Regions from separate parts of the Homo sapiens genome. Here regions 2 and 3 are each linked to region 1. Evidence: fine-mapped QTL for protein levels in blood plasma. A gene starts in region 1. Each other region holds a variant in brackets. All regions are shown on one strand. Distances are between the middles of the regions.

What was found. A credible set is the group of variants that fine-mapping cannot tell apart. PIP is the chance, under the fine-mapping model, that this variant and not a neighbour inherited with it causes the effect. The UK Biobank Pharma Proteomics Project read protein levels with antibody pairs (Olink). The fine-mapping took linkage between variants from a reference panel, not from the people measured, so its PIPs are less certain.
Region 2: its variant is the best candidate, but not a certain one, in a credible set for the plasma level of the LYPD8 protein (UK Biobank, PIP 0.88).
Region 3: its variant is the best candidate, but not a certain one, in a credible set for the plasma level of the LYPD8 protein (UK Biobank, PIP 0.78).

What each region holds. Positions count from the first base shown.
Region 1 is chr1:248,755,123-248,761,012 of GRCh38, reverse strand. LYPD8 (LY6/PLAUR domain containing 8) reads left to right here and starts at 5,254. Exons shown (of 7, transcript NM_001085474.2): 1 at 5,254-5,308; 2 at 5,627-5,774.
Region 2 is chr1:248,761,936-248,774,161 of GRCh38, reverse strand. It overlaps the pseudogene DPY19L4P1. Among named protein-coding and RNA genes, the nearest start is that of LYPD8, 12 kb to the right of the region's middle. The variant G/A (reference allele first, on the strand shown) is at 8,097.
Region 3 is chr1:248,797,193-248,809,418 of GRCh38, reverse strand. It overlaps LOC124904577 (a long non-coding RNA gene), which reads left to right and starts at 1,901. Exons shown (of 2, transcript XR_007067008.1): 1 at 1,901-2,370; 2 at 9,665-10,631. RefSeq lists enhancers at 3,957-4,166, 5,575-6,774. The variant C/T (reference allele first, on the strand shown) is at 4,698.

The DNA.
Region 1 (5,890 bases):
GGACTTCTTTTTATTGGCAACTTTTTAAAAAATTTACCATTTCAATCTCTCTGCTTGTTATTGGTCTGTTCAAATATTTTCTTTCTTTCTGGTTTAATCTAGGAGGGTTGTATATTTCCAGGAATTTATTTATCTCCTCTAGGTTTTCTAGTTTATGCATGTAAAGATGTTCATAGTAGCCTTGAATGGTCTTTTGTATTTCTGTGGTGTCGGTTGTGATATCTCCTGTTTTGTTCTAATTGAGCTGATTTAGATCCCCTCTTTTCTTTTTTTGGTTAGTCTCACTGGTGGTCTATCAATTTCATTTATCTTTTCAAAGAACCAGCTTTTCGTTTCACCTATCTTGCTACCAAATTGGCATATAAGTAAACAAGTACTCACAAATTAAGTCTAAATGGTTTTCAAGTTCATGTGAATCTTTGACAAATAAAACTGGCTTCAAAAATTATTAGTAAAATAATAAAAATGTCTTTAGAGTCATCAGCATACATTTCTGTCTAAATAAATTTTATATTGACCTCTGTGGTTATTAGGGAAATAACTTTAAATAATGACTAACTTTATATAATACCTTGGTTTTCAAGAGTAATCTAAATTGTTAAAAAATAAATTAATTAAATACATATACATGAGATAAATACCTATAAGTGGACTTTTTGTGTAATGTAAAATCTTAACATTATTTTAAATTAAATAACAAATGCTTATTGAATGTCTGGGTCATTTCCAATGTAAATAATTATTATATGAGAAAACATGGTTCTGAAATAGTGAAATAATTTTATCTATAAAATGCTAACATCTGACATACAGTTCAGATTTCTTGCTTCCCATTTTCACTAAAATTTAAGATTACTAGAAATAAAAATTCTAATTAATATATAATTCTGTAAATTGCATTTTATAAAAAATAATTTTGTGTAATTTGGAAGCCATTTTAAAATCATTTACTTGAAAAGGCAAAAAGAAACCAGAAGTGGGGAAGAGAGATGTGAAGAAAGTTATGGTATAAAGTTGCACCCGTAACTTTCACATATATATATATATATACTCGTAAATTAAGTCTAATAATACTGCTATGATTATTCATGTACAAGTTTTTGTATAAACAGTTGTTTTCATTCAATTATATTGGGTATATACCTAGGTGTGGAATTGCTGTGTCATGGGTAACTCTCTTAGAGGAACTGCCAAACTCTTTCCACAGTGGCTGCACCATTTTACATTCCTACCAGTAGTGTATGAAGGTTCCAATTTCTCCATATCCTTCCTAATGCTCGCAATTTTCCTTGCTTCCTTCTCTTTCTTTCTTTCTTTCTTTCTCTGTCTCTTTTTCTTTCTTTCTTTTTGATTTTATTTGTGTTAGTGGGCATGAAGTAGTATCTAATTGTGGTAGAAGTGTGTTCTGAGGCTGGACCTCACCTCAGACCATTGCCCTGTGCAGATGCGAATGTCCCTCTGGGCTGTGCAGTTGCCGATATGAGCTCAGAGAACAATGATAGCAGTAGTAGCCATTGTTTTTAGAGCCCTTTATGAAGTGATAGTTTCATCATCATTGTCGGCTTGTGCGACCTCCTTTGACCCTCAGAATAGCTACTCAGGCCGTAGTGCTGTTTTTGCCACTTGAAAGATGGGAAACCCAAGACTCGGGGGGATCATCATCTTACATAAGGCCATGGACTATTGGGGAAGTTTATCTTCCAGGATATGCTCATTTCCTCTGCAAGGTGACTGGGGGGCAGGAATGTTGGGGGCAATAATTCATTATTTTTAGCCTATTCTCACATCTCCAAGCGGGAGGAATGAGCTAGTCAATGAAAGGCTCCCAGAAGCAAACACAGAGAGAAGGCGGGTCAGGGGTGGATGCTCTTGATCCTTTTGCTGAGTCTTTGGCTTAGACTCCTGTTGGATATAATTCCTGCCCCAGCTTCCCTGACCTGACCCTACACACCTCCACATGCTTATTCCAAAATGGGGTAGGCTCCCCTGGAAACTCACCTCCAAGCTTTGCTGGTCATCAAGGGAAGCTTTGGGAAAAGGCCGTTTCCTAAAGTGGTTCCAGATTTACCACCGGATGACTCACTGGGACTCAGCTGAGCTCCAGGTTTGCCTCAGCTCAGCAGGCTGTAGGGACAGCCAACCTTGTCCCCTTCTAAGAAGATGATGGAACTAGGGTGCCTACGGTGTGCCCAGGGCTTCTTAGTTTAAAAGTTGGGCTGCTTGTTGCGACTTAGCTTCTCCTGGGTCTCTGGACTTCTTTGCTAGTCAGGAGGAGTCGGCTTTAGAGAGGTGCTTTTTCATAATTCCCTGTGACTGATTCAGGTCCTTGGACCCCACATTAATGACAGAGAGGTGAACCTCTGGGAGAGGGAGGAGTGGAGTCAAGTCGATGTCTCCAATCCTGCGGGTGGAGGCTGCGTCCCACCTGAGCCATGTTGAAATGGAAAGATTGCTGGCCCAGGCGTCTGAAGGCCTATAGGGAAGGCCTCCCTGGGCCTGTTTCCTTATCTGTCAAGGCAGCTGGGGGTACCCTTGGCGCACTGCCGGGGCTTCAAAAGGATGAACCCAGGACTGCTGTGAGCAGCCGTATAGACTGCGCAGCCTAGTTCAGGGGGCTTCCATTGTCTTCAGTGTCCTTACTGATAAATGGCTCAGTTAAAATCATACGTGCTATTAATAATAATTCCCACATGGTTAGACGTCCTCAGGACATTATTGATAGATAGATGGCCTTGGAAAAACACAGAGGAATGGGGTGATGATTCCAGGAGTAAATAAATCATCAGGAGGCATTTCTTCAGGGCCTGATGATTCCATTTTAAAGACAAAGAGCTCTGGCCCAACAAGTGCGGTTAATAAGTAACTTATGTGATGTGAGGGACAAAGTCTGGATTCAGACTCAGATCTTTGTGGTCGCTTTGGGTCCATTTGCCTGAGTATCTGGTGCCTTCTGAGAGGAATTAACATTGATCAGCCCGATTTTCTCATGCCAGTACTCAGCCTGACACCAGAGCTGTTATCTCAGAGGCAGTGTTCATGAGCTCTTTGGATCCTCCATCGGTGGCTCAGGGAGGCCACATTCCTGAAACCCGCAAGCCCACACACACCCCATTGGATATTACTGTGCCACTTCTCTTGTTGTGCCCTGCCAGGTGACTGACTAATGTGTGCTGGGAAACAATATGGTTCTGTTAGGGAGGAAGCTGCTTTTTTTTTTTTTTAGGAAAATGCTGTGATAAGCAGCCTGAAGGCAGATGGTGAGGAGAGGAGAGAATAAGAGATGGCCAGAGTCTCTGCTTATAAAAATAACTCAGATTTTGTCTTCTCCATGAGACCTACTACAACCTCCTCATTGAAAGTGGAAGCCTGCACCTGCTCACCCCCTAGCATGGTTGATGACTTATCCTACTCTTTGTCTTTTTGCCAGAGCAGTCACCACATTCTGACTTTCCCTGTGATTTGCTTATTTACCACTTTAATTTATGTTGTCTGTAGTCCTCTCTAGACTACACTCCAGGAGGGCAAAGGTCTTTGTCTTTTTGCTCACAAATACCTCCCGGTTTCCTACAGTAGGCCTAAGACAGGGAGGGTGCTCAAAAAATGTTTGTTGAATGAATGCATGAGTTTGGGGAAGGAAGAGAGAGCTGAGACACAGGTAGCGTAGCCATCCCCAAGGGGTATTTTCAAGAGCAGGGAACTGCAAGGTTTAAATGCAGGCTGGGGGATACTGGTATGATGTGTGCCCCTCAACCTCTGCATCCTCGGCTGAGTGGGCTCCTCCCACTCCCCACCGTGTGTGTATAAAGTGTCAGCACAGTGGAAAGATGAGGAGGGAAGATAACTCAAGTCCACACTCAAAACCAGGAGCACCCATGGCACAGTGTGAGGAGACTGGGAGAGTGTGAGGGTTAATATTGAGTGTCAACATGATTGGATTGAAAAGTATTGCAAAGTATTGTTCCTGGATGTGTCTGTGAGGGTGTTGCCAAAGGAGATTAACACTCGAGTCCGTGGACTGGCAGAGGCAGAGCCACCCTCAGTCTGGGTGGGCACCATCTGATCAGCTGCCAGCTCTGCTAGAATATAAAGCAGGCAGAAAAATGTCAAAAGGCTAGACTGGCCTAGCCTCCCAGCCTACATCTGGGTGGACATCATCTAATCAACTGCCAACACAGCTAGGATAAAAGCAGGCAGCAGAACGAGGAAGGACCAGACTGGCTGAGTCTCCCAGTCTCCATCTTTCTCCCATGCTGGATGCTTCCTTCCCTCAAACATCGGACTCCAAGTTCTTCGGCTTTGGGACTCTTGGGCCTACACCAGTGGTTTGCCAGGGGCTCTCAGGCCATCAGCCACAGACTGAAGGCTGCACTTTTGAGGTTTTGGGACTCAGACTGGCTTCCTTGGTCTTCAGGTCACAGACAGCCTATTGTGGGACTTCACCCTGTGATCATGTGAGTCAATACTCCTTAATGAACTCCCCTTCATACATATATAAACTCACCTTCTCTAGAGGACAGAGAACCTGACTAATACAGAGAGGCCTCAGTTGACCTGACCTGGGCTGTTACCAGTAGCTGCTCAGATCACTTGGCCAGAAAGACTCTCTCGATGGCTGCTGTGGGCTCTCACCCAGTGTGCAGAGCACACTGCAGGCAGGGGCTTCACGTCATGGTCCCTCTACCACACTATGAGGCTGCACAGTGAGTTTACACTCATCTTGGTTGGAGGACCCTCAAATCTAACAAGGTTAAGACACTTGCCTGTGGGAAACTGAGGCCCTTTCCTGAGTTGCACAGACCCCACATAGTCTGATTCGGAGCTCTGAGTTCTGACTGTGCCCCGGCTGTGTGCCCATGAGCATATCTCTTATGGCTCTCTTTCTGTGCTTTGGTTTTCTCATCTATAAATGGGCTAATCATGGTGACTGTTAGCAGGTTGTTAGGTGCTTGTCATTAGCAGGTCATGGAATTGACTTAGAAGGCCACAGACAATGCTGGAAGATACCTTACTCCTGTTTACATTTTGCCAAAGGCAGGCCTTGACCAAAGTTGTTCCCAATTCCTAGAGGTCTCAGAGAGGGCACGAGCTGCACAGATGCCAAAGGGTTGGGCAGCCTGTAGCTCTATTGGGCAGGGCACAGTCTGAGAGCCAGAAGCCTTAGCCTGTCTGACCCAGAGGTCCCACCCCAGAAGACAGCTGTGCTTTTTGATTTTACAGCCACCTGCTATATAAGGCCTCTCCCATACCAGCCCTAAGCCTCTACTGGGAACCACCTTCTGTAGGACAGTCACCAGGCCAGATCCAGAAGGTGAGAGGACTGCGAGGCCGGGGCCTGAGCCCTGGGAGAAGCTGAAACCGCAGGAAGGGCATTCAGGACCAGCTCAGGTCCTTCCCCGGCCAAGTCCAGGACATTCTTGCGGCTCTTGCTCCTTTGGCATTGCCCTAGGCAGTCGTATGCTCAGGAGAGGGAAGTCTGGAGTTCAGGGAGGATGTGGGCTGGGGATGTAGTTTTCTTGTTGTTTTGCCATCTGCTACTGTGTGTGTGGTTTGTGTGTAGTGTGTGCGTGTTCTGTGCATCATTCTGTGTGTGACATTCTTCATTCTGTGTGGTTTTGTGTCCTCACAGCCTCTCTAGGCTCCAGCTTTCTCTGTGGAAGATGACAGCAATTATAGCAGGACCCTGCCAGGCTGTCGAAAAGATTCCGCAATAAAACTTTGCCAGTGGGAAGTACCTAGTGAAACGGCCTAAGATGCCACTTCTTCTCATGTCCCAGGTGGGGGCCCTGCCTTGAGCCCCAGCTTCACTGGTCCCTCTTACCCACAGAGGTGTTGAGCACGGCCCTGGGTCCTGCTATGGGGTCACTCCCAGGCTCTGTTTCTCTGCTAGGTG
Region 2 (12,226 bases), 10 kb before region 1:
GGCAAACATGGTGAAACCCCATCTCTATTAAAAATACAAAAATTACTCAGGCGTGGTGGCACACACCTGTAGTCCCGGCTACTCAGTAGGCTGAGGCAGGAGAATCGCTTGAACCCTGGAGGCAGAGGTTGCAGTGAGCTGAGATCACACCACTGCCCTCCAGCCTGGGTGACAGAGTGAAACTCTGTCTCAAAAAAAATTACTTTATTTATAACATTTTTCATCAAAAATATACCTTGAATTGGGCAGGTCAGATAGTGGGGGCGTGATGGCTACGAGTGGGCCAGGGTTGGGGGGTTCCGCCAGGTGGAGGCAGGATAACTCCAGGCCGGGAGGGAGTTGGAGGGGTGCCCCACGCCCTGAGGGGACAAAGGCAGATGAATAAGGACCAATTGTAGAGCTGCATTAAAGAAAAATGCCAAAATCTTCAGAAAATAAGGAATCTGCCAAAGAAGAGAAAATCAGTGACATTCCAGTTTCTGAAGGAACTCCAAGACATGTATGATTTCAAGGCTTTGCAAAGATTTTCACTGGCTGTCTTGCAGCAGTTACTGGTGGTATGATGTATGATCTCTACTTATCTGTATACCACGAACAGAAATTCTGGTTTTCCAACAGGCAGGAGCTTGACCGGGAAATCACATTTCAGGGTGACAGTGGCATTTATTACTCATAAAGATGTGTTAAAGGCGCCTTCATTTGAAAGAGGTGTTTATGAACTGACACACAATAACAAAACTGTATCTCTGAATAGCATAAATGCAGTGTAGCAAATGTTTCTATATCCAGAACCTATTGCCAGCGTTTTATATCAAGCCACTGGTAGCAATGAGATTATTGAGGTGGAGTATTTCTATATTGGCATTGTTTTTGGAGTGTAAGGAATATATGTTATTGCTTTGTTTGTTACAAGTTGGCTTATGAATGGAACGTGGCTAGCAGGAATGCTTACTGTTGCGTGGGTCATTATTAACAGGGTAGATATAATACAAGAATTGAATACTCCATTCCTTTAAGAGAAAACTGGGCACTACCATATTTTGCATGCCAAGTTACTGGACTTACAGGCTATGAGAAAGCAACTTAAATACTTATGGAGAGAGGTTTTGCTACTTGCTGATGAGTGCTTCAATTTACACATTTATGATGATGGGGAGTACAGCCACTCTCCCGTTTCTTCAAGCCATAACTCTGTTCCTGCTAGATATCTTTTCACTGGAGCAAAGTGATGAGGTTTATGAAGTTTATAAAATCTATGTATTTTCTCTCTTCCTGGGATATTTACTGCAGCTAGAGAATCAACCTTTATTGGTATCTTGTTTATTAAGTTTGGTAGCAGTCTCAATGCTTGCTAAGTGCCTTTGCTGAATCTAAAGAAAGGAAACTTTGTAGCTAAAATAATGAAAGTGATTAATTTTTACTTGGTGTGTACTCTAACAGTGACATTGTATGTTATAATGAAGATGTTTGTCCTAAACAGAGAAAACGGGCTCATGCTGAAATTCCTTGAAGTTAAGTTTGGACCAAATATGGCTAAGAATTTTACAATGAATTGGCTCCTCTGTCAAGAATCTCTACAGGGGCCATCTCAGGATTTTGTGTGTGTGTGTGATTGACACAGTCTTCTTTATTACCCTTTTATATTTTAGTGTTAATTATTTATTTTGTTCCTATGTTGCAAGTTATTTTTAGGAGGATTAATGGTAAATCCCTGAAAGAAGCTGTTACTCTTGAAGATGAACGAATTGGTGACATTATTGGAGAAATTATTTCATAATTCACACTATTTTATTGGGTTCTCTTGTGATGGTTATAGAAGGCTTGAAGTACATCTGGATTCCTTATGTGTGCACGTTAGCAGGATTTGGTGTACGTTCTTCTGAACTTTGAACGACACTTTTCAAGTGGTGCTGATTAAGAACTGTATACCCAATGTGGTTGTCTCTCCCTGAGCATGGCTGTGCCTACTATAGTAGGTCTCAGTTTATAGAAAGAGCTTTTTTCCAAGATTAATGGCACAATTAACGGAGTGACAGGAATTCTACGACCCAGGTACAGTGGAACTTATGACATGGATAAAAAGGCCAGTTCCAGCTGCAACTGTGTTTGCAGGGAGTCCACAGTTAATGGGTGCGATGAAGTTATGCACTGGAAGGCTGGTGACAAGTTTGCCTCTTTACAATGATGATCTTCTCAAGAGAAATGAAAACATCTACCAAATACATCCAAAGCGATCTGCTGAGAGTATTTATAACATACCGACAGCCAACAAAGCTAATTACCTAATGGTAGAGGATACTATCTGCAATGAGTTGGGAACCAGAGAGGCTGTAGGGTTAAAGATTTATTAGACATTGAAAATGACCACATGGTTTGCAAAGAAGGTGACAAGCTAACCTACTCAAAATATGGGCAATTTTTTCATGAGGTCAGAATTAACTGTTCTCTATGTGTGAATTATCTCACTAGAGTATACTGGAACAGATCCTACTTTGTACACAAAATCAACACTGCGGGCCACGTGCAGTGGCTCACACCTGTAATCCCAGCACTTTGGGAGGCTGAGGCAGGCAGATCAAGAGGTCAGGAGATCGAGACCATCCTGGCTAACACGGTGAAACCCTGTCTCTACTAAAAAAATACAAAAAATTGGCCGGGCGTGGCGCTGGATGCCTGTAGTCCCAGCTACTCGGGAGGCTGAGGCAGTAGAATGGCGTGAACCCAGGAGATGGAGCTTGCAGTGAGCCAAGATCGTGCCACTGCACTCCAGCCTGGGTGACAGAGCGAGACTCCATCTCAAAAAAAAAAAAAAAAAAAAAAAAAATCAACACTGTGATGTCCTCCCAATCTTGAAAAATAACTGAACCTTAATTTCACAGACTACCTGAAGTAGAATGCAATTTTTTTCTACCTGCTCAGATCAAATAGGGACATTTGAAATATTGCCGCTGCTTCTCCCTACCTGCTGTTAACCGGATCCAGAGTTCTGTGGGAAACAGAAGATCAAACGTTACTGTCCTTTGATAAAATGTGATATCTACCACTCTGCAATATTTCAGACGGGTATCTTCTTTACTATTACCTGGTCTTTAAAGATTTTACTGATTGCAACATTTCCCCATAAATCTTCATTCTATTATAATGTTGATCTTGAATTTGATTATGTTCAAGGTCAGAATATATTTCTCAAACATAATTTTATAAATATTTAATGTGATATAATTATATAATAGAAGGAAAGAATTATTTCTACCACCAAGCAAGTTTCTGAAAATGTTTCATGATTTATAACAACTGAAGTTTTACAACAAAAGACTAATTTAAATGTTAGCTGAAAATACATGACATTTAAATTAAAATCAAAATTACATAAAGGGAAGTAAGTGATTTTTAAGGATATACATAAGGATATATCCAGAATTTTCAGGATACTCTTCTCATCATCTGCTGCTTATCTGAGTTACTTTCTTGGTAATACATAGTGCATGATATTATTGCATTTTTTTATGACTAGTAAGTGATTAGTTTTTTCACTTATACCTATTAATTTGATACCAATTTAATCATGATAAAACAACTGTTACCTATTATATGTATATATATATATATGTATATATATATATATGTGTATATATATATATATATATATATATATATATATATATATATATAAAATTTTGATTTCCATGGGTTATTGGGGAACAGGTGGTATTTGGTTACATGAGTACATTCTTTTTTATTTTATTTTTTTGAGACAGAGTTTCACTTTTGTTGCCCAGACTGGAGTGCAATGGCTCGATCTCGGCTCACCACAACCTCTGCCTCCTGGGTTCAAGCGATTCTCCTGCCTCAGCCTCCCGAGTGGCTGGGATTACAAGCATGGGCCACCGTGCCCGGCTAATTTTTTTGTACTTTTAGTAGAGACGGGGTTTCTCCTTGTTGGTAAGGCTGGTCTTGAACTCCTGACCTCAGGTGATCTGCCCTCTTCAGCCTCCCAAAGTGCTGGGATTACAGGCGTGAGCCACCACACCCAGCCACATGAGTACATTCTTTAGTGGTGATTTGTGAGATTTTGGCGCACCTGTCACCTGAGCAGTGCACACTGCATCCAATTTGTAGTCTTTTATCCCTCACCCCTTTCCACCCTTTCCCTGAGTCCCCAAAGTCCACTGTGTCATTCCCATGCCTTTGCATTCTCATAGCTTAGCCCCCACTTATGAGTGAGAACATACAATGTTTGGTTTTCCATACCTGAGTTACTTCACTTAGAATAATAGTCTCTAATCTCATTCAGGTCGCTGCAAATGCTATTAATTTATTTGCTTTAAGGCTGAGTAGTATTCCATCATATATGTATTTATCAGGTTATTTATGCACTTGTTGGTTGATGCGCATTTTGGTTGGTTCCACATTTTTGCAATTGTAAATTGTGCTGTTATAAACATATGTCTGCAAGTATCTTTTTTGCATAACAAATAATAATAATCTTTTTTGTATAATAATAAATAATAAATAACTTCCTTTCCTCTGGGAAAGTAGTGGGATTGCTGGATCAGGTGGTAGTTGTACTTTTAGCTCTTTAAGGAATCTCCACACTGTTTTCCATAGTGGTTGTACTAGTTTACATCCCCACCAGCAGTGTAGAAGTCTTCCCTGTTCAGCGCATCTCCATCAACATCTATTAGTTTTTAATTTTTTGATTATGGCCATTCTTGCAGGAGTAAAGTGGTGTTGCCTTGTGGTTTTGATTTGCATTTCCCTGATCATTAGCGATGTTGAGCATTTTTTGATACGTTTGTTGGCCATTTGTATATCTTCTGTTGGGAATTGTCTATTTGTGTCCTTAGCCCACTTTTTGATGGAATTGTTTGTGGTTTCCTTGCTGATTTGTTTGAGTTCATTGCAGATTCTGGATATTAGTCCTTAGTCGGATGTATAGATTGTGAAAATTTTCTCCCACTCTGTGGGTTGTCATTAACGCTGCTGATTATTTCTTTGTCTGTGCAGAAGCTTTTTAGTTTAATTAAGTCCCATCTATTTATCGTTGTTTTTGTTGCATTTGCTTTTGGGTTCTTGGTCATGAAGTCTTTGCCTAAGCCAATGTCTAGAAGGGTTTTTCTGATGTTATCTTCTAGAATCTTTATGGTTTCAGGTCTTAGATGTAAGTCCTTGATCCATCTTGAGTTGATTTTTGTATAAGATGAGAGATGAGGATCTAGTCTCATTCTTCTATATGTGGCTTGTCAATTATCCCAGCACTATTTGTTGGATAAGGTGTCCTTTCCCCACTTTATGTTTTTGTTTGCTTTGTCAAAGATCAGTTGGTTGTAAATATTTGGCTTTATTTCTTGGTTCTTTATTCTGTTCCATTGGCCTATATGCTTATTTTTTATACCAGTACCATGTTGTTTTGGTGACTATGTCCTTACAGTATAGTTTGAAGTTGGGTAAAGTGATGCCTTCAGATTTGTTCTTTTTGCTTAGTCTTGCTTTGGCTATGTGGGCTCTTTTTTGGTCCTATATGAATTTTAGGATTGTTTTTTCTAGTTCTGTGAAGAATGATGGTGGCGTTTTGATGAGAATTGTGTTGAAATTGTGGATTGCTTTTGGCAGTATGGTCATTTTCACAACATTGATTCTACCCATCCATGAGCATGGGATGTGTTTCCATTTGTTTGTGTCATCTATGATTTCTTTCAGCAATGTTTTGTAGTTTTCCTTGTAGAGGTCTTTCATGTCCTTGGTTAGGTATATTCCTAAGTATTTAATTTTTTTGTAGCTATTGTGAAAGGGATTGAGTTCTTGATTTGATTCTCAGCTTGGTCACTGTTGGTGTATAGCAGAGCTAATGATTTGTGTACATTTTGTATCCTGAAACTTTGCTGAATTCATTTACCAGTTCTAGGAGCTTTTTGCATGAGTCTATATGGCTTTCTGGGTATACAATCATACCATCCACAAACAGCAACAGGTTTACTTCTTCTTTACCAATTTGGATGCCCTTTATTTATTTCTCTTGTCTGATTCCTCTGGCTAGGATATCTAGTACTAAGTTGAATAGATGTGGTGAGAGTGAGCATCCTTCTCTTGTGGTAGTTCTCATGGGGAATGCTTTCAACTTTTCCCTATTCAGTATAATGTTGTCTGTGGGTTTGTCATAGATGGCTTTTCTAACCTTAAGGTATGCCCCTTCTATGTAGATTTTCCTGAGGGTATTAATCATAAAGGGATGCTGGATTTTGTCAAATGCTTTTTCTGCATCTCTTGATATGATTATGTGATTTTTGTTTTTAATTCTGTTTATGTGGTATATCACATTTATTGACTTACTTTTTTTTGTCAGTGTAGATTAGTTTGCATTTTCTTTTTTTTTAAATTATTATTATACTTTAAGTTTTAGGGCACATGTGCACAATGTGCAGGTTAGTTACATATGTACACATGTGCCATGCTGGTGTGCTGCACCCATTAACTCGTCATTTAGCATTAGGTATATCTCCTAATGCTATCCCTCCCCCCTCCCCCCACCCCACAACAGTCCCCAGAGTGTGATGTTCCCCTTCCTGTGTCCATGTGTTCTCATTGTTCAATTCCCATCTATGAGTGAGAACATGCAGTGTTTGGTTTTTTGTCCTTGCGATAGTTTACTGAGAATGATGATTTCCAGTTTCATCCATGTCCCTACAAAGGACATGAACTCATCATTTTTTATGGCTGCATAGTATTCCATGGTGTATATGTGCCACATTTTCTTAATCCAGTCTATCATCGTTGGACATTTGGGTTGGTTCCAAGTCTGCTATTGTGAATAGTGCCTCAATAAATATACGTGTGCATGTGTCTTTATAGCAGCATGATTTATAGTCCTTTGGGTATATACCCAGTAATGGGATGGCTGGATCAAATGGTATTTCTAGTTCTAGATCCCTGAGGAATCGCCACACTGACTTCCACAATGGTTGAACTAGTTTACAGTCCCACCAACAGTGTAAAAGTGTTCCTATTTCTCCACATTCTCTCCAGCACCTGTTGTTTCCTGACTTTTTAATGATTGCCATTCTAACTGGTGTGAGATGGTATCTCATTGTGGTTTTGATTTGCATTTCTCTGATGGCCAGTGATGATGAGCATTTTTTCATGTGTTTTTTGGCTGCATAAATGTCTTCTTTTGAGAAGTGTCTGTTCATATCCTTTTCCCACTTTTTGATGGGGTTGTTTGTTTTTTTTCTTGTAAATTTGTTGGAGTTCATTGTAGATTCTGGATATTAGCCCTTTGTCAGATGAGTAGGTTGCGAAAATTTTCTCCCATTTTGTAGGTTGCCTGTTCATGCTGATGGTAGTTTCTTTTGCTGTGCAGAAGCTCTTTAGTTTAATTAGATCCCGTTTGTCAATTTTGGCTTTTGTTGCCATTGCTTTTGCTGTTTTAGACATGAAGTCCTTGCCCATGCTTATGTCCTGAATGGTAATGCCTAGGTTTTCTTCTAGGGTTTTTATGGTTTTAGGTCTAACGTTTAAGTCTTTAATCCATCTTGAATTAATTTTTGTATAAGGTGTAAGGAAGGGATCCAATTTCAGCTTTCTACATATGGCTAGCCAGTTTTCCCAGCACCATTTATTAAATAGGGAATCCTTTCCCCATTGCTTGTTTTTCTCAGGTTTGTCAAAGATCAGATAGTTGTAGATATGCAGCGTTATTTCTGAGGGCTCTGTTCTGTTCCATTGATCTATCTCTCTGTTTTGGTACCAGTACCATGCTGTTTTGGTTACTGTAGCCTTGTAGTATAGTTTGAAGTCAGGTAGTGTGATGCCTCCAGCTTTGTTCTTTTGGCTTAGGATTGACTTGGCGATGTGGGCTCTTTTTTGGTTCCATATGAACTTTAAAGTAGTTTTTTCCAATTCTGTGAAGAAAGTCATTGGTAGCTTGATGGGGATGGCATTGAATCTATAAATTACCTTGGGCAGTATGGCCATTTTCACGATATTGATTCTTCCTACCCATGAGCAAGGAATGTTCTTCAATTTGTTTGTATCCTCTTTTATTTCATTGAGCAGTGGTTTGTAGTTGTCCTTGAAGAGGTCCTTCACGTTCCTTGTAA[G/A]TTGGATTCCTAAGTATTTTATTCTCTTTGAAGCAATTGTGAATGGGAGTTCACTCATGATTTGGCTCTCTGTTTTTCTGTTATTGGTGTATAAGAATGCTTGTGATTTTTGTACATTGATTTTGTATCCTGAGACTTTGCTGAAGTTGCTTATGAGCTTAAGGAGATTTTGGGCTGAGACAATGGGGTTTTCTAGATATACAATCATGTCGTCTGCAAACAGGGACAATTTGACTTCCTCTTTTCCTAATTGAATACACTTTATTTCCTTGTCCTGCTTAATTGCCCTGGCCAGAACTTCCAACACTATGTTGAATAGGAGTGGTGAGAGAGGGCATCCCTGTCTTGTGCCAGTTTTCAAAGGGAATGCTTCCAGTTTTTGCCCATTCAGTATGATATTGGCTGTGGCTTTGTCATAGATAGCTCTTATTATTTTGAGATACGTCCCATCAATACCTAATTTATTGAGAGTTTTTAGCATGAAGGTTGTGAATTTTGTCAAAGGCCTTTTCTGCATCTATTGAGATAATCATGTGGTTTTTGTCTTTGGTTCTGTTTATATGCTGGATTACATTGATTGATTTGCATATATTGAACCAGCCTTGCATCCCAGGGATGAAACCCACTTTATCATGGTGGATAAGCTTTTTGATGTGCTGCTGGATTTGGTTTGCCAGTATTTTATTGAGGATTTTTGAATAAATGTTCATCAAGGATATTGGTCTAAAATTCTCTTTTTTGGTTGTGTCTCTGCCCGGCTTTGGTATCAGGATGATGTAGGCCTCATAAAATGAGTTAGAGAGGATTCCCTCTTTTTCTATTGATTGGAATAGTTTCAGAAGGAATAGTACCAGTTCCTCCTTGTACCTCTGGTAGAATTCGGCTGTGAATCCGTCTGGTCCTGGACTCTTTTTGGTTGGTAAGCTATTGATTATTGCCACAATTTCAGATCCTGTTATTGGTCTATTCAGAGATTCAACTTCTTCCTGGTTTAGTCTTGGGAGAGTGTATGTGTCGAGGAATGTATCCATTTCTTCTAGATTTTCTAGTTTATTTGCATAGAGGTGTTTATAGTATTCGCTGATGGTAGTTTGTATTTCTGTGGGATAGGTGGTGATATCCCCTTTATCATTTTTTATTGCGTCTATTTGATTCTTCTCTCTTTTTTTCTTTATTAGTCTCACTAGCGGTCTATCCATTTTGTTGATCCTTTTAAGAAACCAGCTCCTGGATTCATTAATTTTTTGAAGGGTTTTTTTAAAATCTCTATTTCCTTCAGTTCTGCTCTGATTTTAGTTATTTCTTGCCTTCTGCTAGCTTTTGAATGTGTTTGCTCTTGCTTTTCTAGTTCTTTTAATTGTGATGTTAAGGTGTCAATTTTGGATCTTTCCTGCTTTCTCTTGTGGGCATTTAGTGCTATAAATTTCCCTCTACACACTGCTTTGAATGTATCCCAGAGATTCTGGTATGTTGTGTCTTTGTTCTCATTGGTTTCAAAGAACATCTTTATTTCTGCCTTCATTTCGTTATGTACCCAGTAGTCATTCAGGAGCAGGTTGTTCAGTTTCCATGTAGTTGAGCGGTTTTGAGTGAGTTTCTTAATCCTGAGTTCTAGTTTGATTGCACTGTGGTCTGAGAGACAGTTTGTTATAATTTCTGTTCTTTTACATTTGCTGAGGAGAGCTTTACTTCCAACTATGTGGTCAATTTTGGAATAGGTGTGGTGTGGTGCTGAAAAAAATGTATATTCTGTTGATTTGGGGTGGAGAGTTCTGTAGATGTCTATTAGGTCTGGTTGGTGCAGAGCTGAGTTCAATTCCTGGGTATCCTTGTTAACTTTCTGTCTCGTTGATCTGTCTAATGTTGACAGTGGGGTGTTAAAGTCTCCCATTATTATTGTATGGGAGTCTAAGTCTCTTTGTAGGTTACTCAGGACTTGCTTTATGAATCTGGGTGCTCCTGTATTGGGTGCATATATATTTAGGATAGTTAGCTCTTCTTGTTGAATTGATCCCTTTACCATTATGTAATGGCCTTCTTTGTCTCTTTTGATCTTTGTTGGTTTAAAGTCTGTTTTATCAGAGACTAGGATTGCAACCCCTGCCTTTCTTTGTTTTCCATTTGCTTGGTAGGTCTTCCTCCATCCTTTTATTTTGAGCCTATGTGTGTCTCTGCACATGAGATGGGTTTCCTGAATACAGCACACTGATGGGTCTTGACTCGTTATCCAATGTGCCAGTCTGTGTCTTTTAATTGGAGCATTTAGTCCATTTATATTTAAAGTTAATATTGTTATGTGTGAATTTGATCCTGTCATTATGCTGTTAGCTGATTATTTTGCTTGTTAGTTGATGCAGTTTCTTCCTAATCTCGATGGTCTTTACATTTTCGCATGATTTTGCAGTGGCTGGTACCGTTTGTGCCTTTCCTTGTTTAGTGCTTCCTTCAGGAGCTCTTTTAGGACAGGCCTGGTGGTGACAAAATCTCTCAGCATTTGCTTGTCTGTAAAGTATTTTATTTCTCCTTCACTTATGAAGCTTAGTTTGGCTGGATATGAAATTCTGGGTTGAAAATTCTTTTTTTTAAGAAGTTGTATATTGGCCCCCACTCTCTTCTGGCTTGTAGAGTTTCTGCCGAGAGATCTGCTGTTAGTCTGATGGGCTTCCCTTTGTGGGTAACCCGACCTTTCTCTCTGGCTGCCCTTAACATTTTTTCCTGCATTACAACTTTGGTGAATCTGACAATTATGTGTCTTGGAGTTGCTCTTCTCGAGGAGTATCTTTGTGGCATTCTCTGTATTTCCTGAATCTGAATGTTGGCCTGCTTTGCTAGATTGGGGAAGTTCTCCTGGATAATAACCTGCATAGTGTTTTCCAACTTGGTTCCATTCTCCCCGTCACTTTCAGGTACACTAATCAGACGTAGATTTGGTCTTTTCACATAGTCCCATATTTCTTGGAGGCTTTGTTCATTTCTTTTTATTCTTTTTTCTCTAAACTTCCTTTCTCACTTCATTTCATTCATTTCATCTTCCATCACTGATATCCTTTCTCCCAGTTGATCGCATCGGCTCCTGAGGCTTCTGCATTCTTCACGTAGTTCTCAAGCCTTGGCTTTCAGCTCCATCAGCTCCTTTAAGGACTTCTCTGTATTGGTTATTCTAGTTATACATTTGTCTAAATTTTTTTCAAAGTTTTCAACTTCTTTGCCTTTGGTTTGAATTTCCTCCTGTAGCTCGGAGTAATTTGATTGTCTGAAGCCTTCTTCTCTCAACTCGTCAAAGTCATTCTCCGTCCAGCTTTGTTCCATTGCTGGTGAGGAACTGCGTTCCTTTGGAGGAGGAGAGGTGCTCTGCTTTTTAGAGTTTCCAGTTTTTCTGCTCTGTTTTTTCCCCATCTTTGTGGTTTTATCTACTTTTGGTCTTTGATGATGGTGATGTACAGATGGGTTTTTGGTGTGGATTTCCTTTCTGTTTGTTAGTTTTCCTTCTAACAGACAGGACCCTCAGCTGCAGGTCTGTTGGAGTTTGCTAGAGGTCCACTCCAGACCCTGTTTGCCTGGGTATCAGCAGCGGTGTCTGCAGAACCGCGGATTTTCGTGATCCGTGAATGCTGCTGTCTGATCGTTCCTCGGGAAGTTTTGTCTCAGAGGAGTACCCGGCCGTGTGAGGTGTCAGTCTGCCCCCACTGAGGGGTGCCTCCCAGTTAGGCTGCTCAAGGGTCAGGGGTCAGGGACCCACTTGAGGAGGCAGTCTGCCCGTTCTCAGATCTCCAGCTGTGTGCTGGGAGAACCACTGCTCTCCTCAAAGCTGTCAGACAGGGACATTTAAGCCTGCAGAGGTTACTGCTGTCTTTTTGTTTGTCTGTGCCCTGCCCCCAGAGGTGGAGCCTACAGAGGCAGGCAGGCCTCCTTGAGCTGTGGTGGGCTCCACACAGTTCGAGCTTCCGGCTGCTTTCTTTATCTAAGCAAGCCTGGGCAATGGTGGGCGCCCCTCCCCCAGCCTTGCTGCCACCTTGCAGTTTGATCTCAGACTGCTGTGCTAGCAATCAGTGAGACTCTGTGGGCGTAGGACCCTCTGAGCCAGGTGCGGGATATAATCTCCTGGTGCACCATTTCCTAAGCCTGTCAGA
Region 3 (12,226 bases), 45 kb before region 1:
TTAAATTGTATGTATAGGAGGTGAACAACATGGTATTTTGATGCACATAATGAAATAGGTATCAAATTGGCCTATCATTTTGCAGTTACCTCCCCCCTTTTTTGTTGTGAAACCGCCTAAAATCTACTCTCAGCAAATTTTCAGTCTATAATACAGTATTATAGTCCTAATGAAGGGCTTTCTGAGATGACACACAGTGCTGGACTTCCCTACCCAGTCACTGGCAGGCAGGACCTGTGAGGCTCCTGGTACAGAAGAGCCCTAGAAAAGAAGGGCTATGCCATGCACGTGCGTTTCTCCTTGCAAAATCACCTAGAAGATGCGGCAGGCGGGAAGAGAGACCAGGAAGGTTAGAGCCAATGGTACTTCTAAGGAGAAGAAGACAGAAGCCGAAGAGCTCCCTCCCTCCCACCCTCGTTGTAGTAACTTGTACTCATCCAGTGCATTTCACGTACCAGGAACGCCCCTAATTAATCTCTACAACAATGTTATAGGACAGATAAACACTATGATTTCCTTTCCACGGTAAGAAAATAAGGCACAATGGGGGGTACTCAGCCTTGCTGAAGGTAACGGAGGCGGCTCCCACTAGGCACTTGGACTCTAGAGTCCAAACGCTTGAACCACTGGGCTCACAGGAACAGGAGGTGAGGAAGTGGAGGTAGTCATCTCCGAGGAAGTTTTGCTGGGAAGAAGAGATGAGAAGTGGGAATACTGTTTCTTAGCTCCTTCTCCCAGCAAAGAGGGTCGAGAAATTTTGTTTAAGGTGAGGAAGAGATGGTCAAGGTGTGGGGGACATAGGGCCCCATCCCCCATTCCTGTACTGTGTCATGTTACATGTTACATTGGCCTGTTGGTAATGAATTGTTCTGATCTTCATCTTCCTCAAGTGTGGGGCTGGGGCCTCAGTCTACCCAACACCTGACACAGGCTCTCACCAACAGATGCTCAGGAAATGTGCTTTTGCTTCTTGCCCCTTCTCTTAGCCCACAGCTGTATCAGGTGGGTTTATCAGTACAGCAGTTTGGAGGTCAGGACCTGGTGATGCACAATCCCAGGATCACATCTCTATGGGAATTCTCAAATTTCATGACGCTTCAATTTTATCGCCTATAAAATGGGAGCATAGAGGCATGTGTGGCATGCTGCTACATCAGTGGATCTGAGGTGCAGCGATTCCTGTTAGCACCTCTTCACAGCCTCGGAGTGCTTAACTCACGGAGGCTTCATCCCATCTTGCGCTAGGCAAGTGGACTCTATGAAAGGGTTGTGTTTCCCTCCTCATCTGGATATGATTTTTGACAAGCATGACAACCCCACTGCCTTTTTAAAAATTTAATTTTTAATATTTATTTTATTATGAGACAGGGTTTTGCGCTGTTGCTCAGACTGGAGTGCAGTGGTGCAATCATAACTCACTGCGGCGTGGGACTCCTGGGCTCGAGCAATCTTTCTGTCTCAGCTTCCCTAGTAGCTACGACCACAGATGCACACCACCATACCCCGCTAATTTTTAACTTAATTTTTTTTTTCTCTGTAGAGATGTATTGCAGTGTTGCCCAAAATGGTTTTGAACTCTTGGACTTAAGCAGTCCTCCCTCCTTGACCTAAAGTGCTGGGATTACAGGCTTGAACCACTGCTCTTTGCCTTTTTTTTTGTTTGTTTTTGTGACACTCGTTCTAGCCCAGGCTGGAGTGCAGTGATGTGATCTTGGCTCACTGCAACCTCGACCTTCTCGGCTCAAGAGATCCTCCCACCTCAGCCTACCAAGTAGCTGGGACTACAGGTGTGTCCCACCATGCCCAGCTAATTTTTGGATTATTTTGGAGGCGGGGTTTCCCTGTGTTGCCCAGGGTGGTCTTAAACTCCTGGGCTCAAACGATCCCCCTACCTCGGCCTCCCAAATTGCTGGGATTACAGGCATGAGCCACCATGCCTGGTTATGCTTCCAGCCTTTAGACATCTTTTAAAATTGACATATTGTAATTGTACGTATTTGTGGGGTGTGGAATCAACCCATCTGTAGATGCTCCTACTCTGCCTGGCAGGAAGAGCGGAGATGACCTTCTTGGGCTGTCAAGGTCTTGCTGTGTCAGCAGGGGGCAGCAGCTACCAGAAAGTGCGCAGAGCCTGGGCTCTGCATTTCCCTGCGCGCACTGCGTGTTGACCCTCCAAGCCTGCGTGGTCAGCCTCATGGGCACTTTGCAGAAGGGCCTGAAAAACTGCACATAGAAGGGTGGGGGTGTGTATACATCAGAATGGAACCCTATTTGTACTTGTCATGGGCCTCTTGCATTCCCGTGTGTCCTCGGAATCACCTATTGCGTGTGAGAGCTGGCTCAAGTCTGCAGCGCAGCTGGTCTCAGGAGGTAAGATGTTCGATATGTAGATGTACCCTGTTCTCCTCAGAGCTCACCTCCTTCCTTGGCCTCCCTAGTGTCTTTTCCCTCTCCCTTTCCACAGCCTCTTTATAAATTTCTCCACCCACGCCTGCTCACCATTCCTGAGCCCCAGGCTGCAACACATTGCTCATGCCCTGGGATAAGGGAACCAGGAGACCATACACTGGCTGGCAAATGGATATGTGTAGTTTACTAAGAAATGTTCACCAGGATCTTTCAGTGTACAAACACTGTGGTAGGCCTTGTTAGGAACACTATAAACTGTAATGCCATGGGTGGGTCTTCCAGGTAAGGAATGCAGGTGTGCACAGGTGGTGCAGGGCAGTGAAAAATACATAACCAGGCCAGGAGCAATGGCTCACAGCTGTAATCCCAATGCTTTGGAAGGCCAAGGTGGGAGGCTCACTTGAGGACCAAGTTTGAGGCCAGCCTCAGCATCATAGTGAGAACCCGACTCTACAAAAAGTAAAAAAATTAGCAATGCGTGATGGCATGCACCTGTAGTCCTAGCTACTCCTGAGGCTAGTGGGAGGATCTCCTGAGCCCAGGAGTTTGAGGCTGCAGTGAGCTATGATCACACCACTATTTCAGAATGGGTGACAGAGGGACAACCTATTTCTAAAAATAAGTAAATAAATAACTAATGAGGGCTGCAGTCAAGGAAAAATCTGGGAGGTTACAGCTGGGCATTGCTCTCCGAAGCTCTGAACCAGCCCCTTGGTCTCAGACTGGAGAAGTGGTGCCTGGCTCCCAATCCTCACTCTTCCCAAATCTGTCTTGAGCTCCCAGGGCCTGTGTCTCACCCATCTTGGTGTTCTCAGGACCTGGAATGTGGAAATTTTCACCAAACAGCTGTCTACTGACTTACTTCTGCTTGTGCTACCCTTGGCACAAGTTTCCTCCCTTCTCAAACTGTCAAACTGCTGCCTGTGGTTTGAGGACCAGATCATGTGGTCAAAAGTCCACATGAGCTGGGATTCAACCACAGGCACCTCTCTAGCCCAGTCTGAATTAATCCTTATCACTCTCAAGTTCCCCATGGCTCTTTTGACTTACTGAAGAATGGGCCGGTTGTTGTAGACATGTCTCTTGTTGGTCCTAAGTCCTCAGAAGAAGGGGTCAGTATCATCCTTGACTCCATCTCACTCAACACATAACACAATAGACATATGTACAGGGACCATACGTGATGCATAGTCTAAATTGGGACAGCTGAGTGTGAAAGGGGGCAGGTGTGGCCTGGGACTGACTTGGGTGATCTAGGACATATGGTCACCCTCATTCTAGGTGCTCAGTAAACATTAGTTCTTTTGAGAGCTTCGGTGTTAAAAACACTGACCACACTATTCAGAGAGGGTTGCCCTTGGCCTGCCCCTGCCACAAGGGGTTATGTGCACAGGGACAATTCACTCAGCTCCTCTGGGCCTCAGTGTTCCAATCTGCCGGAAGTGTGGACAGACTCAGTAGATAACCTCTAAGGTTATCTAAAGCACTAAAATTATACAGCTGGCAGTGGAGGCTGGGCCATGCGAAGAGTTCTGATGGATGATGTGAAATGGTGCATGTGTTTGCAGACAGGGTTAGGGGTTGGAGCATGAGAAACCTGAGCAAGTCCAGAGTTGGTTAGGACCCAGCCCGGAGGGAGCAGAGGGCTGCTGGATATTTCTGCTTGGGTGTGAGATGATCATCGTCCAGAGGTCGAAGAGCTCAGAGTGCTGGGCAGTAGTTTCTCTTTCTCCAGGCAGGCAGGTGGCTTTCACTGCACAGTGCAGATACGCTTCTTGATTTATTCAAACATAGGAGGAAGGGAGTGTCAAAATGAGTTTCTTCCCCATTTAGAAAAGAGGAACCTTCTTGGTCTAGGGTAGAGTGGAGCAGCAGAGCTGCCTTCTTCCTCAGCTGCGGCTTCATCTTCCATGCTCCTTCCAGGCCACCCCATCCTGTTTCGTCTCTATGATTTCTGCAATAACATGCAGAAGAGCTGGATCATCTTCACACTGACACAAGGAAATCTCAGTTGTGCCACGGCCTGCTTTTTTCCAGCAGGAATTCTTAAGGGCCTGGGGGCCTGGGGCAGCAGTGAAGGCTGGAGGAGGCTCATGGAGCTGTACAGGTTCGCAGGGGCTGCTGTGGTTTAGGGAAGAAGGAGAGGATGTTGCTTAATGTCACCTGCCTTGTGTGCTAACCTCAGTGTTGCTATGGTTTCAGCCTCCCACTCCACTTGGAGAGAGAGGCCAGGAGCCCACCTGCCTCTGCAGCCCACCTGCCTCTGCAGCCCAGGGTGGGAATGTAAC[C/T]GTTGCTGCTGTACTCACATCTGACCTTCCTTCAGCTGATCTTCGCCCCTTTTACCAGATCTCCTCTTTCACTTTACAATTTCAGAAGCCTCAGATTACAATCCTCTCCATTCCCTCAAACAGTTGCATCTGGCAATAGTGACCATGGCTGCCCCATTGGAAGGGACTGTTAACAGAAAAGGGCATGAGGCCTTAGGAGGAGGGGAGCTACGTCTTCATAACACTAACAAAAACAAACCCGAGGTTAAATAAAGTGAACCAGGTATTTAGTTCACCTGCCACCTGGGATATACTTTTTAATTTTTTCTGGGTTGGTTAAAAATATATTTAGGGCCGGGCACGGTGGCTCACGCCTGTAATCCCAGCACTTTGGGAGGCTGAGGCGGGCGGATTACCTGAGCTCAGGAGTTGGCAACCAGCCTGGGCAACATGGCGAAACCCCTTCTCCACTAAAATACAAGAAATTAGCCGGGCTTGGTGGCGTCCACCTGTAGCCCCAGCTACTCAGGAGGCTGAGGGAGGAGAATGGCGTGAACCTGGGAGGCGGAGCTTGCAGTGAGCTGAGATCGCGCCACTGCACTCCAGCCTGGGTGACAGAGTGAGACTCCGTCTCAAAAAAAAAAATGTATATACATACATATGTATATATATTTAACGACACTTTCAGAGAGAATGTGACAGAGATAAAAGCTGAATAAGAATGACAGGAAAACTGATCTGGAAGCATAAATGATGAGGATGAGAGAAAACATCTGCAGCTAGACAAACCCAAAAGACTTGGAGAAAGTGACAAAAGTGAAGCAGCAGAGACGAGGAGAGACGTGAAAATACACGCTGGAGGGAGGGACATCAGAGACGAGAAGAGGAAAGCCTCATAGGTGACTGGGACATCAGAGATGAGAAGAGGAAAACCTCGTAGGTGACTGGGACATCAGAGATAAGAAGAGGAAGGCCTTGTAGGTGACCGGGACATCAGAGACAAGAAGAGGAAGGCCTCGTAGGTGACCAGGACATCAGAGACAAGAAGAGGAAAGCCTCGTAGGTGACCGGGACATCAGAGACGAGAAGAGGAAGGCCTCGTAGGTGACCAGGACATCAGAGACGAGAAGAGGAAAGCCTCGTAGGTGACCAGGACATCAGAGATGAGAAGAGGAAAGCCTCGTAGGTGACCGGGACATCAGAGACGAGAAGAGGAAGGCCTCGTAGGTGACTGGGACATCAGAGATGAGAAGAGGAAAGCCTCGTAGGTGACCGGGACATCAGAGACAAGAAGAGGAAAGCCTCGTAGGTGACCGGGACATCAGAGATAAGAAGAGGAAGGCCTCGTAGGTGACCGGGACATCAGAGATGAGAAGAGGAAAGCCTCGTAGGTGACTGGGACATCAGAGACAAGAAGAGGAAAGCATCGTAGGTGACCGGGACATCAGAGATAAGAAGAGGAAAGCCTCGTAGGTGACCGGGACATCAGAGATGAGAAGAGGAAAGCCTCGTAGGTGACCGGGACATCAGAGATGAGAAGAGGAAAGCCTCGTAGGTGACCGGGACATCAGAGATGAGAAGAGGAGAGCCTCGTAGGTGACCGGGACATCAGAGACAAGAAGAGGAAGGCCTCGTAGGTGACCGGGACATCAGAGATGAGAAGAGGAGAGCCTCGTAGGTGACCGGGACATCAGAGACAAGAAGAGGAAGGCCTCGTAGGTGACCGGGACATCAGAGATGAGAAGAGGAGAGCCTCGTAGGTGACCGGGACATCAGAGACAAGAAGAGGAAAGCATCGTAGGTGACCGGGACATCAGAGATGAGAAGAGGAAAGCCTCGTAGGTGACCGGGACATCAGAGATGAGAAGAGGAAAGCCTCGTAGGTGACCGGGACATCAGAGACAAGAAGAGGAATGCCTCGTAGGTGACCGGGCTGGTAGCACAAATGATACTCATACGTGCCAGGACTCTAGCTGAGCCCGAGTTAGATTTACAGCCCTCCTTATCTTGACCTATCTCCAAGTTCCTAGGTGAAGTGGCTGTTCCCAGTGCTGCCTGAATCCTTCAGCTGACTGCCGGCCAGAGGTTTATGGCTCTGATCAGGAAGATCACTGATGAGTCTTGTTTCAGACAGGTCCCACCCTCTGTTGGCTCCAACAGTGTTTGATATCCAACAATAGGAAACCAGATTCTGTGAGTGAACTCAAGCTATAGGCAGGACCCGTGGAAGGCACAGGGGAAAGGAGTTGTCTTCCCAGGAAATCTTGGATTTCCCCCTGGAAGTAGGTATCCTATGTACCAGGTGGGAGAGGACTGAGGAGAATGTGCCTTAGGACATGGCTGAGAGCCTCTCTACAGCTCTGCACCATTAATTCCGTGTGGATTTGTGTACCTGGAGCCCAGGGAAAACTAAAGCCCCTCTAATCAAAATGGTGTTTCTTTCTCGAGGTCCTGCTGGTTGTGAGAGATTTATGCTTCTGTGTGGGATATGTTCTTTCACCTATAAACATCAAAATCCCACAGTGAAATGGGAACAGAAAAATGTTTATTCCCCACCCAACCTTCATCTTAAACATGGTTCAATAGGAAGGTATCACTCAGAGACCCTGGCCCAGGGAGGATCCTTCTATGACTCTAGTTCCTAAAATGTGTTCTCTAGATCAACAATATAAACATCACCAGAAACTTGTTAGACATGCAAATTCTCAGCCCCCTACCTCCACTCCTCTGCCCACAGCAATACTGCATTAGAAATGCTGGGAGTGGACCCCAGCAGCTTTCAACAAACCCCTAGAGTGATTCTAGTGTACCCTGGAGTTTGAGAACCTCATCTTTCCGGCAGGTGGAAGGGATGTGGCAAACAGTGCACAGGGGTCCCAAGACTTGTCCCTTCACTCACCTTTCACTGGCCAAAGCAAGTCACCTGGCCTTGCTCCCCCATTGCCTTCTGCCATGATTGGATGCTTCCTGAGGCCTCCGCAGAAGCAGAAACCACTATGCTTCCTGTATAGCCTGCAGAACTACGAGCCAATTAAAACTCTTTTCTTTATAAATGACCCAGTCTCAGGTATTTCTTTATAGCAATGTGAGAACAGACTCTTGAAATATTTGCACACCCATATTGAAGCAGTATTATTCACAATAGTTAAGAGGTAAAAGCAACCCAAATGTCAATTGACAGATAAATGGACAAACAAAATACGTTATATACAATTGAATATTATTTAACGTTAAAAAGGAAGGAAATTCTGACATATGCTACAACATAGACTATCCTTGAGGACATTTTGCTAAGTGAAACAAGCCAGTCGCAAAAGAACAAATACTGTATGATTACACTTACATAAGGTATCTAGAATAGTCAAACTTACAAAAGCAGAAAGTAGAACAGTGGTAACTAGAGAATCTGGGGAGAGGAAAATGGGGTGTTGTTTAATGGGTAAAAATTTCCAGTTCTACAAGATAAAAACTTCTTTTGTAGATTGGTTGCATAGCAATGTAAATATTGTTAGCAAAACTGAATGGTAACTGGGTGCGGTGGTTCACGCCTGTAATCCCAGCACTTTGGGAGGCTGAGGCGGGCGGATCACGAGGTCAGGAGTTCGAGACCAGCCTGACCAACATGGTGAAACCCCGTCTCTACTAAAGATATAAAAATTAGCCAGGCATGGTGGCGCATGCCTGTAATCCCAGCTACTCAGGAGGCTGAGACAGGAGAATCGCTTGAACTTGGGAGGTGGAGGTTGCAGTGAGCCGAGATCATGCCACTTCACTACAGCTTGGATAACAGAGCAAGACCCTGTCTCAAAAACAAAAACAAACCAACCCAAAAAACAAAAAAAACCCAGAATGGTAAGCTTAAAAATGCTTAAGATGGTAAATTTTGTGTTATCCACTTTTTTTTTACCATAATAAAAATAGTATCTTGACAAAATTAATAGAAATCATACAAAGTATGTTTTCTGACCGTAGTGGGATTAAACCAGAAATCAATAACTGAAAGCTGGAAAATTACAGTATATTCGGAAATGAAACAAAAACTGTTCTAAATAAGGAATCAAGAAGTGTAAAGAAAAGTTTTTATATATTTAGGACAAATGAAAATGAAAATGCCACTTGTCAAAATGTGTGGGGTGCAGCAAGAGTGCATAGTGGGAAAGTTTTAGTAACATGTCTACATTAGAAAAGAAAATGAGCTAAAATCAATAACCCAGCGTTCCACCTTAGCACACTAGAGAAAGACAAACAAATTAAGCCTGAAGGAAGCAGAAGAAAAGGGATAATAAAAATTAGAGCAGAAATGAATGAATTTGAAGACAAGAAACAATAGAGAAAAATTAATAAAATCGAAAGCTGATTCTTTGAAAAGACTGGTAAAATTAATGATTCAGGCTAACCAAGAAAAACAGAGAGGAGACAAATTATCAATTTTATAAATGAAAGAATGTTAATCATCCCTTGGACATTAGAATGATAATAAAAAGATAATATGAATAAATCCATGCTCACAAATTGGATGATTTTGATGAAAGGACTGATTCCTTGAAAAATACAAATTGCCGAAATTCACAGAGAAGAAATAGATCAGCTGAACAGTTCTATATATTAAATAAATTAAATCATTAATTATTAACCTTCCAAAAAAGAAAACATCAGGTCCAGGTGGTTTCACTGGTAAATTATATCAAACATTGAAGGAATAACTGATACTAGTTTTCCACAATTTCTTCCATAACATAGAAGCAGTGGAACACTTCCTAGCACATTCTATGAGGCCCGCATTATCCTAGTCAAAATCAGATAAAGACACCAAAGAAAGGAAAACAATGGACCAGTATTTTTCATGAGCATAAATGTAAAAATTATCAACAAAATATTAGCAAATCAAAGCAAACAGTGTGTAAAAACATTTTATACCATGACCAAGTGGAATTTATTTCAGGTATGTAAGACTGATTTAACTTTCTTTCTTTCTTTTCTTGAGACAGAGTCTCGCTCTTGTTGCCCAGGCTGGAGTGCAATGGCACGATCTCGTCTCACCGCAACCTCTGCCTCCCAGGTTCAAGCAATTCTCCTGCCTCAGCCTCCCGAGTAGCTGGGATTACAGGCATGCACCACCAAGCCCGGCTAATTCTGTATTTTTAGTAGAGATGGGGTTTCTCCATGTTGAGGCTGGTCTTGAACTCCTGACCTCAGGTGATCTGCCCGCCTCAGCCTCCCAAAGTGCTGGGATTACAGGCGTGAGCCACCGCGCCCGGCTGACTGATTCAGGTTTCTAAACTGAGCAATATAATTTAGCACATCAGCAGACTAAAGAAGAAAAGCCATATGATTATATTGATTCAGAAAAAAAGTTTGACAAAATCAAACACCCATTTATGATAAAAATTCTCAGCAAATTATGAATTAGTAAAACTTCTTTAACATAGAATTGCTACAGAAAACATACAGCTAACTAACATCACACAGAATGATGAAAATGGCATGCTCTTCTGAGCTTGGAAACAAAGCAGGGTTGTCCTCTATTACCACTCCTATTCAACACTGTATTGGAAATCTTAGGTAGTGCAATAACACAAGAACGAGAAAAAAGTTACAGGTTAGAAAGGAAAAAATTAAACTCTATTTGCAGAAGATACAATTTTCTATGTAGAACATCTCAAAGAATTGACAAACAAAACAAACCAATTTATGGAAGTAAGTTAGCATTGCAAGGTCATGGGATACAAGACTAACATAAGAAGTCAATGACTAACTTGAGGAAGTTATGCTAAGTGAAATGTGCCAGTCACAAAAGACAAATATTGTATGATTCAACTTACATGAGATACCTAGAAGACAAATTCATAGAGGCAGAAAGTAGAATGATAGTTACCAGGGGAAAAAGGTGAAATGGGAAAGTCTTGTTTAGTGGGTATAAAATTTCAATTTCGCAAAATAAAAACGTTCTGTGGTTTGGTTGCGTGCTAAATGAGAATATACTTAACACCACTTACTGAACACTTAAGAATAGCTAAGATGGTAAATTTGGTGTAATGTGTATTTTACCATAATTAAAAATAATTTTTAAAATGGAATACAGATTTTCCCTGGCTTTTTTCAATGCAGTCCCAATCAAAATCCCAGAAGGTTATTGTAGATAGCAACAAACTAATTCTAAACTTTATATGAGAAGGCAGAAGATCTAGAGTAGCCAACACAATATTAAAGAAGAAGAACAAATTTGGAGGAACGACACTACCCAATTTCAAATCTTATTATACAGCTATAGTAATCAAGACAGCATATTATCAATTGAAGATAGTCACACAGATCAGTGAAACAGAATATAGAGAAGAGAAATAGATCCACATAAATATAGTCAACTGAACTTTGATGACAGGGCAAAGACAATTTAATGGAGAGAAGATAGCCGCCTTCAGTAAAAAGTGCTGGATAAATTGAACAACTGTATGCAAAAAAATGAACCTAGACAGAGACATTACACTTTATACAAAAGTTAGCTGAAAATAGACATACACATAAAATGCCAAACTATAAAGCTACTTGAAAAAAAATAGGAGAAAATCTGCATGACTTTGGGTTTGATGATGTGTTTTTCAATGGCACTATCCATGGAATAAAAAATTAACAAGTTGGACTTGCTAAAATTGAAAACCTCTGATCTGCTAAAGACATGGTTCAAAGGAAGGAAAGATAAACCACAAATTGTGAGAAAAATTTGAACAATAGACATCTGATAATATCAAAATATACAAAGAACTTGTATTTAAAATGTACAGAGAGTTCTTACAGCTCAACAAGAAAACAACCCAGTTCAAAAGTGGGCAAAAGATTTGAACAGACACCTTAAAAAAAGATATACAGATGGAAAATAAAAATATGAAACGGTGCTCAACATGATATGTCAGTAGGGGATTGGAAATTAAAACGGCAGTGAGATGCCGCTACACACTTATTAGAATATTCAAAATGCAAATAACTGATAATACTGACTGCTGGAAAGTTTGCAGAGCGAAATAAACTCACATTCACAGGTAGTGGGAATGTAAAATGGTACAACCACTTTGGGAGATAATTTGACACTTTCTTGCAAAACTAAACATAATCTTACCATGTAATCCAGCAATCACGTTCCTAAATTCTTACCCAACTGATTTGAAAATGTATGTCCACTCAAAAACCTGCATGCAAATATTTGTAACAGATTGATTCATAATCACCCACAACTGGGAGCAAGGAAGATGTCTTTTAATAGGTGAACGGATAACCAAACTGTGTTGCATCCATACAATGGAATAGCTTCTTATCAATAAAAAGAAATGAGATATCAAATTATGAAAATAAAAGAATCTTAAATGCATATTATGAAGTGAAAGAAGCCAGCCAGAAAAAAAACTGTATAATATATGCTTCCAATTATATGACATTCTGGGAAAGATAAAACTTAAAAGACCTTAAACACATTAGTAGATGCCAGAGGTTCTGGGGAAGGAAGTGAAGGTTAAATAGGTGAGGCACAGGAAAATTTATAGGGCAGTGAAACTTCT